Homo sapiens: one gene and its partners. The protein of the gene in region 3 purifies or fractionates together with the protein of the main gene of each other region. This does not show direct contact. Each region holds a gene or a part of one and is shown on either strand. Other genes may lie near its edges. The genes, in order: NUP210, DDX60L and SECTM1.

Region 1 (3,647 bases), on a different chromosome or scaffold from region 3:
AACATTTGCACATCCATTGAATTTGCAGCTGAGCTCTAAGTTTACAGAAATCACTGTGTGTGCCTGAGCCAACAGCTTCATGTTTACTTTTCCTATTTTTTTTATTTTATAACATCAAAATTGGACAGTTTTCGGGCCAGGGGAACCTTAGAGGTCACCTAGTTTAAACAGCCTGTGTTTCATATAGGAAAACCTGAGCTCCAGAAGGGGAAGTGATCTCTGGGAAGTCTTGTAGCGATGGACACTGAGTTGGAGCAGGAGCTGCTGGGACCCCTCCCTGTCCCACGCCATTAGACCTGGGGACTGGCAGCCTCTGGCTAATTTGCCAGGCTCTAATTCTCTCCAACTGCACCCAGCCAGCACTGGTTTTGTGACAAGTTCCTGATTCCTTCTAGATATTTTGCATTATTGAAAGTGTTCCATAAAGTATATTACATTTGCTCCTTTTAAAGGTATATACAAAACGACCTCATATCAAAAACTGGGAGAACAGACGAAAAAGAAATCATGCCATAATCTTCCAGCTGTAATACAATCACAGGCAGCATTTTGGTTTCTTTTCGGTCACTTATGTTTCCTCTCCTAGCTCCTTTCTTACATTGCCTTGAACCTGGTTATTTGGGCACCTCGGGAACCTCCTCCCCTGCCAACACTGGCTAGCACTGAAGCCCAAGCACTGCTCTGTTGCTTCTTCCTGAGGGCTCCGTGTCTGAGCACCTTTCTGCTGGGTTGAAGTTGCCTCCTCATTGATTCTTTCCCTGTCATGGAGTCCCAGGGTATTCTGGGTGCTCCAGCAAGGGGGCGCTGTCTTGGAGAAAGTGAGTGGCTCAGATTGGTTTCCCAGGGGTGGAGCCTGAGGCAGGATTCTGCTGCCCTAGTTTACAGAGAAAGTGCTCTGTTGGGCAGCTGGATAGGGAAGGGAGGCTGCCTGCAGGTTGTCCTGCCTTCAGGCGAAGAGACCAAGCTTTGAGCTTTTGTACCCACTGTCAGGCAGCCATTGGTTCCCCTGGGGAAGGGGATGTTGTGCGACCTCCCGGGCCTCTGGCGGAGACACTCTGTTTTGAATTACGACCTGCAGCTCCCCTGGCTGAGGTGGGGAGGGGATGTGGACCTGCCTGGTGAACAACATCCAGACACAGCATGCACAGTGACTGCCATACCAAGCTGTTCACAGACTTCTCCTTTCCTGCCCCTGACAGTCTCTCCTGGGCACCTTGGAGCCATCTAACACGTGTGCCAGGCCTGGTCCTGCACCAGGGTACACCCTCTCTTATGTGGTCTGGGGCACTTCTCAGTCACAGGTGTAAGGATTCTCAAACAGGTAGATGGGAGTCCTTTCAGGGCCAGGGAGGGCACTGGTCCCTATGCCGTGGAGCTTGGCCTTGGGGCATGCTGTACCCCAGGCAGTTCAGATGACCCCTGGGGAGTCCCTCTTTGCTGAGGGGTGACTGTGGGAGGCCAGAGGCCAGCACTACCCTTGCGTGTGGATGTCCTGGGTCCCTCTCCCTGCCCCAGCAGGGGAAGCTGCAGCAAATCCCCTCACAGGCCTTCGTGGGTGAAGTTGGGCACTAAGGGTGAGGGATGCACGCTGAGCCAAGTCAGAGTGTCATCTGGCCTAGCTGGCTTCTGCTGGGCTCAGGGACCCTGAGCCTCTGGGACGGGCACGTCAGCAGGTCACATGCTGGAAACTTGCACAGGTGAGGCAACAGGGCCTGTAAGAAGTTGCCCCATAGTCAAAATAAAAAATTCACAAAGTGGAAACAACCCAAAAGAGGGAGTTGAATTCGACGGGAGGCCCCCAGTTTGCTCTTCTGTACCTCCTTCACTTGGCCTTCCCTGAGCCCACACCTGTACTTCTGCTCTTTTCGTTGAGAGTGTTTTCCCCTGTACCACTCAATTTGTGTGCATGCTGCATCCCCACACACCTAGGCCAAATCTCTGTCTCCTTCCTTATGCCTGGCCTTAGAGTCACAGGCTTTGGTCGATTGCGTTATCATCTGGGCCTATTTGATGGCATTTCTGGCAGTTAGAAAGTGGGGTGGAGAAACCAGAGCTCCCGCAGGGCCTGGGAGAGGGCACACGGTGAAGACCCGTCCTGCCTGAGCACCAGGGGACAAGCACTGATGGACGACACATATTTCACCGAGGAGGGCTGGAGAGTCACTGAATAAGAGGTGACAAATGTCTGTGACTCTTTTTATTTTTTGAGATGGAGTCTCGCTGTGTTGCCAGGCTGGAGTGCAGTGGCACGATCTCGGCACACTGCAACCTCCACCTCCCAGGTTCAAGCTATTCTCCTGCCTCAGCCTCTCAAGTAGCTGGGACTACAGGCACATACCCAGCTAATTTTTGTATTTTTAGTAGAGACAGGGTTTCACCATGTTGGCCAGGATGGTCTAGATCTCTTGACCTTGTGATCTACCCGCCTCAGCCTCCCAAAGTGCTGGGATTACAGGCATGAGCCACCACACCCACCTGTCTGTGACTCTTACTATGAGCCAGGCACTACTTGAGGTCCTGGGATGTGACAGTGAAGCAGCAGGAGATGCCCTGCTCTCAGGGACTCACAGTTGATTGCCGGAGTTAAACGGTTAATTAAGATGAGATCTGTGGATGCATGTGAGGCAGGAGTAAGTCCTGAAGGAAACAGAACTGCAAGGCATGGAATGTGTTTTGGGGAGGGCGCTCAGCATAAGCCTCCTGGGAGTCGAACTAGGAGTGGAGTGGGGTTGAGTTGGAGGGGACAGCAAGTGCAAAGGGCCGGAGGAGAGATAGAGCTTGTCAGAAGTGCGCAAAGGCAGCACGTTTGGCCAGGGCAGCAGGGCTGGGAGGGAGGGTGGAGAGGTTGGCAGGGCGGGGCCATGTGGGACCTTGTGGGCTGTGGTTAGGAGACAGGAAGGAGAATGCCAGGTCAGATGTGGGCAGGGTTAGACTGGGCCTGGTTTTTGGGCCTCGTTCTCCCTGGCCCCTGAGGGCTGTCTGTAGCTGTGGCCCCTGCAGGGCTGGACCGGGCCTTGCTCAACTCCCTTCACCAGGCCCGCAGCAGGGAAGTGCCAGGAAGTGTCTGTGGACCTGGGTTGACTTGGGCCTTGGGTGATTTTCTTCCTGCTTCCTTTGTGGGTCCCCCACTCTGCCTGAGCTCTGTCAGCCCCACGAGGTGGCTTCCGCTCTGTAGACACTGCCTTTGGGCACCGTTAGGGGCTGGACCCCGCGGGTGGATGGGAGGTGGCGTGTGTCATCCACCACCCTCACCCATCCTTGTTCTTTGTGCAACTCTCACTTCTCTTTTCTTTTCACTGTTGCTTTCTGGCCTGACCCAGGTCCCTGAGTTCCCCTATGGCCTGCCTGCCTCCTGTTCCTGTGTTGTGAAGAGTGGGGAGCACCCCCTCAAAAGCAGTGCCTGCCAGACGCCAGCACATTCTGTGTGCCAGTGGGGCCTCATGCGACAGTGGGAATGAGAAAAATTCACTCTTTCAAAACTCACTGTCAGTCCTTTAATTTTCCTCAAAATAAAAGTTTTCTTCTGGTGTCTGTATGTGGTTTACATATTTTTTTATTTTAAATTGTGGTAAAATATATATAACATATAATCGACCTCCTTAACCATTTTTAGGTGTAGAGTTCTGTGGCATGAAGTACGTTCACAA
Region 2 (4,244 bases), on a different chromosome or scaffold from region 3:
AATCAAACATGGTATGTATCTCCACCCTAATGGACAGATAATAGGCAGTGAGAAACTAGGCTTCTTGGGCTTAAAAGTTGGAAACCCAGGTGATGCAAAGCAAAATATCTGGTAAAAATCATCCCCTTCAAAACTAGGAAGCCAACCACATGCCAACAAGCCTGATGCTCACAGAAAAGTGATTGGAAAAGGTTGATGGTCAATGTCTATAGTGTTTTAGTTGCTGTTTTTGAGGAGCTATGACCAAGGAAGAATGGGAAAGAGAAATGTCTTAAGAAGGAACTGGGTGGTATGAAAGCAGAGCTGGAAAGAAGAGAATTGGCTGGACACAGCGCCTCATACCTATAATCCCAGCCCTTTGGGAAGCTGATGTGGGAGGACTGCTCAAGGCCAAGAGTTGGAGACCAACCTGGGCAACAAAATGAGACCACATCCCTATTTTAAAAAGGAAGGGAAGCGAAGGGGAGGGGAGGGGAGGGGAAAAGAGGAGAAGAAGGAAGGGAGCCAAGAAATTTGGGTCGCACAGGTGACAGCTTCTGTACTGCAAATAAAAAGTGATAGGACAAAAAAAAAAGAAAAAAAACACCTTGCTCAACAAAGACTCATAAAGAATTCTCAGTTAAACAGAAGGACTTAGCCTTGCTGCAAGTATTAGGTGGAGGTGTTACCCTCCCAGGCCAGACTATCATTTCAAATGAACTTAAGACAGATTATGCTAATTTGAGAGGGAATTAGGATGAAAATAGAAACTCTCTGGGTGTAATTAACGGCATAGGGAACTAACTAGAGCATAAGAAGCTGGATACATTTCTTAGAGAATTGTATTTCCAAATAAACTATGAGCTGCCTTAAAAATGGTTACATCAGTAAAACAAGCAGCAGGTTATAAAAAAGGGTGATATCAGTAAATCAACCAGCAGGTCTCCATACTTACAAAGCAGAAAATGAGCCTGCAGCAGGGAAAACCACAGAGATTTCCACCCACATCAACATAGCCGTGGATGATAATTAACATGGGTATTTTATTAAAAGCCATAAAGCTAATCCTGAGAAGAATTTTTAAAAATATATAATTCATATTAGAAGTATTTCTTTCACAGGGAGTCGTCGGAGTCTGTCTAAAGTAGATAAAACAAAAGACTGATTTGTAAGCATATAATTTATAAGCAACCAAGAAAGAAATGTATATCTTTGGAGTGGTAACGCCTCAGGAGAACTAAAACTGTGAGACTAAGTATGAAGGGGAAAGTAGTAGAGAAGGGCATTTAATTTTTGTTTTATGTCTTTCTCTTCTGCTTCAAATAAAACTGATCAATTATGACCCAGCATACCATGGGGTATCATACAGCAATTACTAAGTAAGACTGACAGGTACCAATAAATCATGAACCAAGAAAAGCATACCAGTATGACAGCCAAAATATCTTTTAAAGTGTATGGATCTAGAGATAGACAGATGATGGATCGATGGATGGACGGATGGTTGGATGGCTGGATGATGGATGGATGGATGGATGGATGGATGGATGGATGGATGGATAGAGAGATAGGAGCTATAGACAAAAACTTGTCTCTTTGTAGAGTATCAGGAAGGATTCACACTAAACTATCCCCAATATCTTTGGGATAGAAGGCGAAGAGCCTTGGAAGCATAACTCACCCTCATTTATTTTAGTACCCTCAACTCTCAGCACCTGAGTTCCACCAAACTTCAAACTGCAAATCTTAGATTGAATGGTATGTTACTGTTTTCAGGAGAACACTCGAAATCATGAAGGTCTGTATGTCGTTGATGTTATGGTTTGGACTTCTTATTGTGTCTTTAAAGGACTTGCTTCTGTTTGGTTCTGACCGCTTTTTCTAGCAGTCATTAGGAGCTTTCATAATCCTTAAGGCCCCATCACGGATGATGTCAGCTTCTTTGATTATGGAAAACCTTGAGAAGTTTATTATAAATTTATCAATGTAACTTTGTAAACAAAAGAGAAGCGGGAAAAAAGAACAAAGTACCTTTCCAGAGAAATAGTAAAACCTTATTTCCGCTATTAAGAGCTTAAATCCGGCCGGGCGCGGTGGCTCACGCCTGTAATCCCAGCACTTTGGGCGGCCTAGGCGGGCGGGTCACGAGGTCAGGAGATCGAGACCATCCTGGCCTAACATGGTGAAACCCCGTCTCTACTAAAAATAAAAAATAAAAAATAAAAAAAAATTAGCCGGGCGTGGTGGCGGGTGCCTGTAGTCCCAGCTACTCGGGAGGTTGAGGCAGGAGAATAGCGTGAACCCGGAAGGTGGAGGTTGCAGTGAGCAGAGATAACGCCACTGCACTCCAGCCTGGGCGACAGAGCGAGACTGACTCAAAAAAAAAAAAAAAAAAAAAGCTTAAATACAAGACGGAAAAAAGGGAAGCGGCTTGCTGCCTGTCAATGTCCAGGTTCGAATGGCTGTGCTCAGATGTGGTGACCCTTACTTTCTCCTCAGCACCCCAGATCCCCAGGCCCCCTCGGGTGCAGAGGACCCGTTAAATGCCTGAGCACTCTCCTCTCTCACGGTGGTTGTCCCTCTTCCCTACCTCTCCGCGAAGCTGCCGCCCGAGCCCAGTGGGCGCCCCAGCTTCCCTCGCCCGGCGCGCACGAAGCCACCAGGCCACCTCCCCGCCCGGTCCATCTGGATGTTGAAGGAATCCTAGAACCCCCGCGGGACAGCTCCGCTCCAGGGTCCCTAGCGACACCCGACGTCACCCGCAATCCTCACCCCGGCCGCCGAACCTGCTAGGTCCAAAGAGCTTCGGAGCTGCACGCCCCGCGGGGAGGAGGTGGAGCAGAGGAGACCGAGCGCAGAGCCTGGCGTCGGACTGGGCGCTCTGAGCCACACAGCAGCCAGCGCCTGAGTTTTTATCTAGGGAGTTAGTTTCGGTTTCTTTTCTCCACCGCGAGGCCTTTTCGATTTCCGCAGTTTTCTGGAGGTAGAATATAGGTCTGCATTGGTTTACTCTGAGAATCTTAGGGAAGTAATAGTAGAAGCGATGATATGCTATCTGGGACATGCATGTAATTGTAAAGGGAAAGAAAGCAGAGAAATCTGGGACTCTAAACAAGGAATTGAGGCTGAGAGTAAATGCAGCACGCTAAGCACTATGAAAGTCTGCGGTGAGGTGTGGCGTTTTTCTTTTCTGGCAAGGTACTGGACAGGCAAAAATGGAGTAAAAAAGGATTAGGGGCTTTGAGTTTCTGTCCTAAGAAGTTCATTTTATGAAAAATTTCCAATAGTATAACTGTCCAGTGTGAACATTTGAAAGACCAATCATCTATCACAGAGAATTTAAATTGAGAAGAAGAATGCTCTTTAGTTTTGTCATCAAGCTCATTAATGTTTGAAATTCGAGTTTCAACCCCAGCCCATCATGGTCTTTAGTGCTCCAGACGCTTAATTCCATGACGTTATGCATGTGCAGAATATATTGAGATTCAAGGTGGTGGTGAGGGTGCCCCAGTAACGGCATGGGGTAATAAATGGAGAGAAATCGAAACCGGAAGTTCTGTCTTCAAGAAAAGGAAAGGGTGGAAGTGACTTGTTCACAATAGAAAGAGCCCAGAAGAACAAAGTTTTTTCTCAGACTCTGGAATATAAAGTGGCTTCGAAAAGGAGGTGAAAACATTGCTCACTTCTGTCAGGATTTTTCTTTAATTTTATGTTTGGTTGAAAATAGTTATGATTCTCTTTCTCAATGAGGATGACATTGAGAAAGAACCTGAAATGACTCATGATTAAGTCATGAGTTCATCTCAGATGAATTCCTCTCTAGCATCTGATACTGGACCTTTGTATCATAAGAATGCATTTGCTAGCAGCAGAAAATTGGGCTTTGCTGTAAAAGCATTCATTGAGCTTTTTATGTGCCAGGCAATAGGCTAAGCCCTTAACATGTATTATCACATTAAATCTCACAGAAATCCCATGAGCAACTTTACTGTTGCTATTTTATGGATGAGGTAAATAAGGCTTAGAGAATTCAATTACTTGTCGATGACCCTACAGGTAGTTAATGGTAGCCAAGACTTCAAAATTTAATTCCAAAGATAATATCTACAATATTCTCTGTATATATTATCTCATTCCAGTTCTTTTAAATACTACAGTGTCATTATTCCTCCCCCAAAGCACATACAATTTAATGGGGATTTCCTCTTTTGGTTGTAGAAGTGGGCCCTACATGTTCTTAATATAATTGACTGTCTGCTGTTGTT
Region 3 (3,647 bases):
TGGTGACGGCTGTGGGCCCTGAGTCGGGGGAGAAGAGGCAGAGGGAGCAGTGGGCTGGGCTAGTGGGGACATGAGTGGGTGGTGATCATGCCTGTGTCGGGGGAGCTGAGGCAGAGAGTGGGGCAGCGAGCATCCCCTGAGGGCAGGAGGAGAGGGGTGGGGACAGAGAAGGGTCGGGGGTGGTCCCAGCCCTGAAGACAGGAGTGGCGAGGGCAGGTGTGGTCTAGGTGCTTGTCGAGGTGGACAACATGGGAGTGGGAGTGGGAGGGGCGGGGCAGGACCGTGGCAGCCTGGGAGGCCCCTGTTCGTGGTCACTAAGGGTGCTGCGCGGGCGACCTTGAGCACCTCTGGGTGACCCCAGTAAAGGGAGGGCAGGTGCCTCGAAGCCAGGTGCTGCGGGTCTGGAGGGCCTCTCAGAGCACAGGTATTTGGGGTGCAGTTTCCCCACACAGCCGGGGTGGGGGTGGCAGGGAGGCGGGGGGTGCCTGGGCTTCCTGGCTGCAGGGTGCAGCCCCCACCCCTGACAGGCAGACTGGGCTCCTTTGAGGAGCAGCTTTGTGTTCTGTGTTGTTTGTGGGACTCCGGCTGCCCTCTGTGGGTCCCACCCCACTGTGGGGTCTGTGCCCCCTGAGCCTCCTGCCTGACCCCTGCCCCTCCCAAAGGAAGAACTGTCCCAGGAGGTCAAGAGGCCTCCACCCCAACTCTCTACCCGCCAACCCTGTCTCCTGGCAGCCCGGCTCATGCCTGCTCTTCTTCCTCCTCCTTCCCTCTCAGTCTCAGCCCTCCCCCTGCCCAGGCCCCCTCCCCTCCCCGTGTCCCCTCTCACTCCCCTCCCCCTTGCTTCCCCGAGCCTCCCCTCACCTGAAACCTCCAGCGTGACTTGTCTGTTATTTCTCTGGTGTCCCACGAGGTGCCACATGTACAGCCCAGCATGGGAGTCCCGGGCGCCTTTGATCACCAGCTGTGCCACGCCTCCCTGAACCTGGAGCTGCCAGCCGTCCCGGGAGAAGTAGCCTGGAGCCACCTCATTGAAGATGGCGCTCTCCTGCCCGTGGGCACGCAGCTTGATGTTGACATGGGAGAAGGCGTTGGAGATGTTGCAGGACATGACGGTGTTCTCGCCCCAAGACACAGAGACTACCCCCTCTGTGCAGATGGGGCTGTCCCAGCCTGTAGGGCCAGACAGAGGCACACACGGATCAGGGCTGGACCTCAGGGCATTGGCTGGCTGCTGTGCCCAGGGCCAGGGCCAGGGCAGGAGACAGGGCCTCTAAGGGACACAGTGAACTATGTATACATCCACCCGACCCAATCAGCACATATATCTCGTGTGGGAAGAATAAAATAGCAACAAAAAAGACGGGTGGCTCTGTGTGTGTGTATGTGTGTGTGTGTGCGTGCTCACACCCACGTCTGTTCCTTGGGGTGTGTCAGCTTGGACGAAGGCATTTCCTATCAACTCCCTCCCCTGTATATTTCCACTGGGGTGGGTGAAGTCAGAGCCTCAGGTGTGTGCCGGGCGGCTGCGCTGTGGCAGGAGTGCTGCCACTGACCTGCCGAATCACCCTCCTCGTGGGAAGCAGTGGCCAGGCCCCACCGCCCCCAGCTCCCTCCTGTTTCTCCAAGGCCTAGGCCAGGTGCAGGTGCTCGGCTGCGTGAGGAAGGGCAGGGCTTCTGCAGACACCCACAGGCCAGCCTCAGAGGCAAGCAGAGCAGACATGGGTTCCAGCCTGTCCTTGTGGGGCCCAGCCTGCTTGTGCCACCCCCAACATTCCCTTTCCCCTCCCGGCCACCCGCTCAGCTCCAGGTTGCTGGGCCAGCTCCATACACAGCTCCACAGTCCTGGGAGGTCAAGTCCTTGACACAAGCCGGCGTGTCAGTCTCTCTCTCCCGCCTCCTGGGTGAACCCTGCCCCATAGCGACCCGTGCAGCTGCTTCCCTCAGAGGGTCTGGGGCCTTTGCCCCAGCAGCCAGCTCAAGGATGCCTGAGATTCAGGCCGTCGGGCCCGAGCATGGTACCAGCCTGAGGTCTTGGTGCTGCTACTGTCCCTGCTGCGTCAGCGTCCACCAGTGACTGGACACGGACGGATGGACGGACAGACGGACGGCAGGGTGAGCTCTCGGGGAGCACACAGCATGCTGGTTGGAGCCGCCATTTGGCCACATTTCACCAAATACAAAACCACATGGTGGGTGCCATGTGCTGGCAAGTGCCAGGGGCCTTGGTGCCCATGGGAGGAGGTGGGCTTCAGGGGCACCTGGCCTTCGGGCTGGACTGAGTTTCCTCTGACGAGCAGGCTGGCTGCCTGCCTGGACGCTCTGAGTGTTCAGGGACTGCAGGGCCTCTAAGGCCACTGCACAAATTCACACCGTCCCGAGGGCAGCGGGCGGCTGTCCAGGGGGTGCCCCAGCCCAGTTACACTTTGGAACCACTGTTGGGGGGTGGGGGCAGAATCTCCCGAAACCAGGGTTCTTCCACCTGGGATTCTTCCCTTTCAGTTTTGTTTTGTTTTTTGTTCGTTCTTAGGATTCTGACTGAACTGCTTTGGGATGTGGTTTGGGATGTGGCTGAGCTCTGACATCTTTTAAAAGCCCCTCGGGTGGCTCAGTGGCTCACGCCTGTAATCCCAGCACTTTGGGAGGCCGAGGTGGGAGGATCACTTGAGCCCAGGAGTTTGAGACCAGCCTGAGCAACATGGCAAAACCCCATCTCTACAAAAAATACACAATTTAGCCAGGTATGGTGTGCATGCCTGTAGTCCCAGCTACTCGGGAGGCTGAGGTGGGAGGATCACCTGAGCCCAGGAGGTCGAGGCTGCGGTGAGCTGTGATTGTACCACTGCACTCCAGCCTGGGCGTCCAGCCTGGGCGATAGAGGTAGAACCCGTCTCAAAAAAAAAAGATAAGAAAAGAAAAGCCCCTCAGGTCACTTTGCTGACAGGTTGGGGATCTAGAGAGCTGGGGAGGATCTCACTGGGGGACCCTGTTCAAATGCAGATCCACTCCTGGCAGGCCTGAGGTGCGCCTGACTAAGGAGCCCCCAGGCCAGGGCTGCTGTCTGTTCCCGGCCATGGCACAGGTCGCAACTGACCCAGACCCTCTCCCTTGGAAACTGGTCGTGATCTTGGTCCTTCCCCACAATTGCTCTGACAGTGACCACCAGGTACCACAGCGGGCACCACCGCCCTCCACCCACGGCGGGACACGGCCCACTCACCACCACCCTCCACCCACGGCGGGACACGGTCCACTCACCGCCACCTGAGGCAGCCCAGCTCCACATGGTCAGGCCCTGGGTCTGCAGAGTCAGTCATTATCGGGGGTCTGGTGGCACCTGGACCCAACCTCAGTCCACCCCTCCTGCCCCTGTCATGCCCCCACCGGGCCCCCCTTTCCCCAGCAGAGAGGCGGGGCCCCGAGACCTACCTTCATTCTGAGCACTCAAGGAGGCAGCCAAAAACAGGAGGGTCCCAAGGGCCTGGGAAACGTGGCCAGGGAATGCCAGGGGGCAGGTCTGCATGGCTGGTGGGACTTGGGCCCCTGGTCCTTGTCACTGGCTCTTGAAACACTCCCTGGAGGAAGGAAAGCCCATGGGTCAGAGCCCCCTGCAGCTGCTGAAGGGGACAGCGGGAGCGGCTGTCACCTGG

Evidence for each region.
Region 1: the proteins of SECTM1 (region 3) and NUP210 purify together in Homo sapiens (affinity purification with mass spectrometry, with the first as the bait; one large-scale study listed by BioGRID). This does not show direct contact.
Region 2: the proteins of SECTM1 (region 3) and DDX60L purify together in Homo sapiens (affinity purification with mass spectrometry, with the first as the bait; one large-scale study listed by BioGRID). This does not show direct contact.

What each region holds. Positions count from the first base shown.
Region 1 is NC_000003.12:13,413,786-13,417,432, reverse strand, and holds part of NUP210 (nuclear pore membrane glycoprotein 210 precursor), read left to right. Parts: intron 1-3,647. UniProt on the Homo sapiens protein: Nucleoporin essential for nuclear pore assembly and fusion, nuclear pore spacing, as well as structural integrity.
Region 2 is NC_000004.12:168,477,626-168,481,869, forward strand, and holds the start of DDX60L (probable ATP-dependent RNA helicase DDX60-like), read right to left. Parts: upstream 2,868-4,244; 5' UTR 2,752-2,867; exon of another isoform or gene 2,570-2,751; intron 2,179-2,569; exon of another isoform or gene 2,011-2,178; intron 1,937-2,010; exon of another isoform or gene 1,661-1,936; intron 1-1,660.
Region 3 is NC_000017.11:82,323,721-82,327,367, forward strand, and holds part of SECTM1 (secreted and transmembrane protein 1 precursor), read right to left. Parts: intron 3,573-3,647; 5' UTR 3,521-3,572; coding exon 3,427-3,520; intron 1,171-3,426; coding exon 862-1,170; intron 1-861. UniProt on the Homo sapiens protein: May be involved in thymocyte signaling.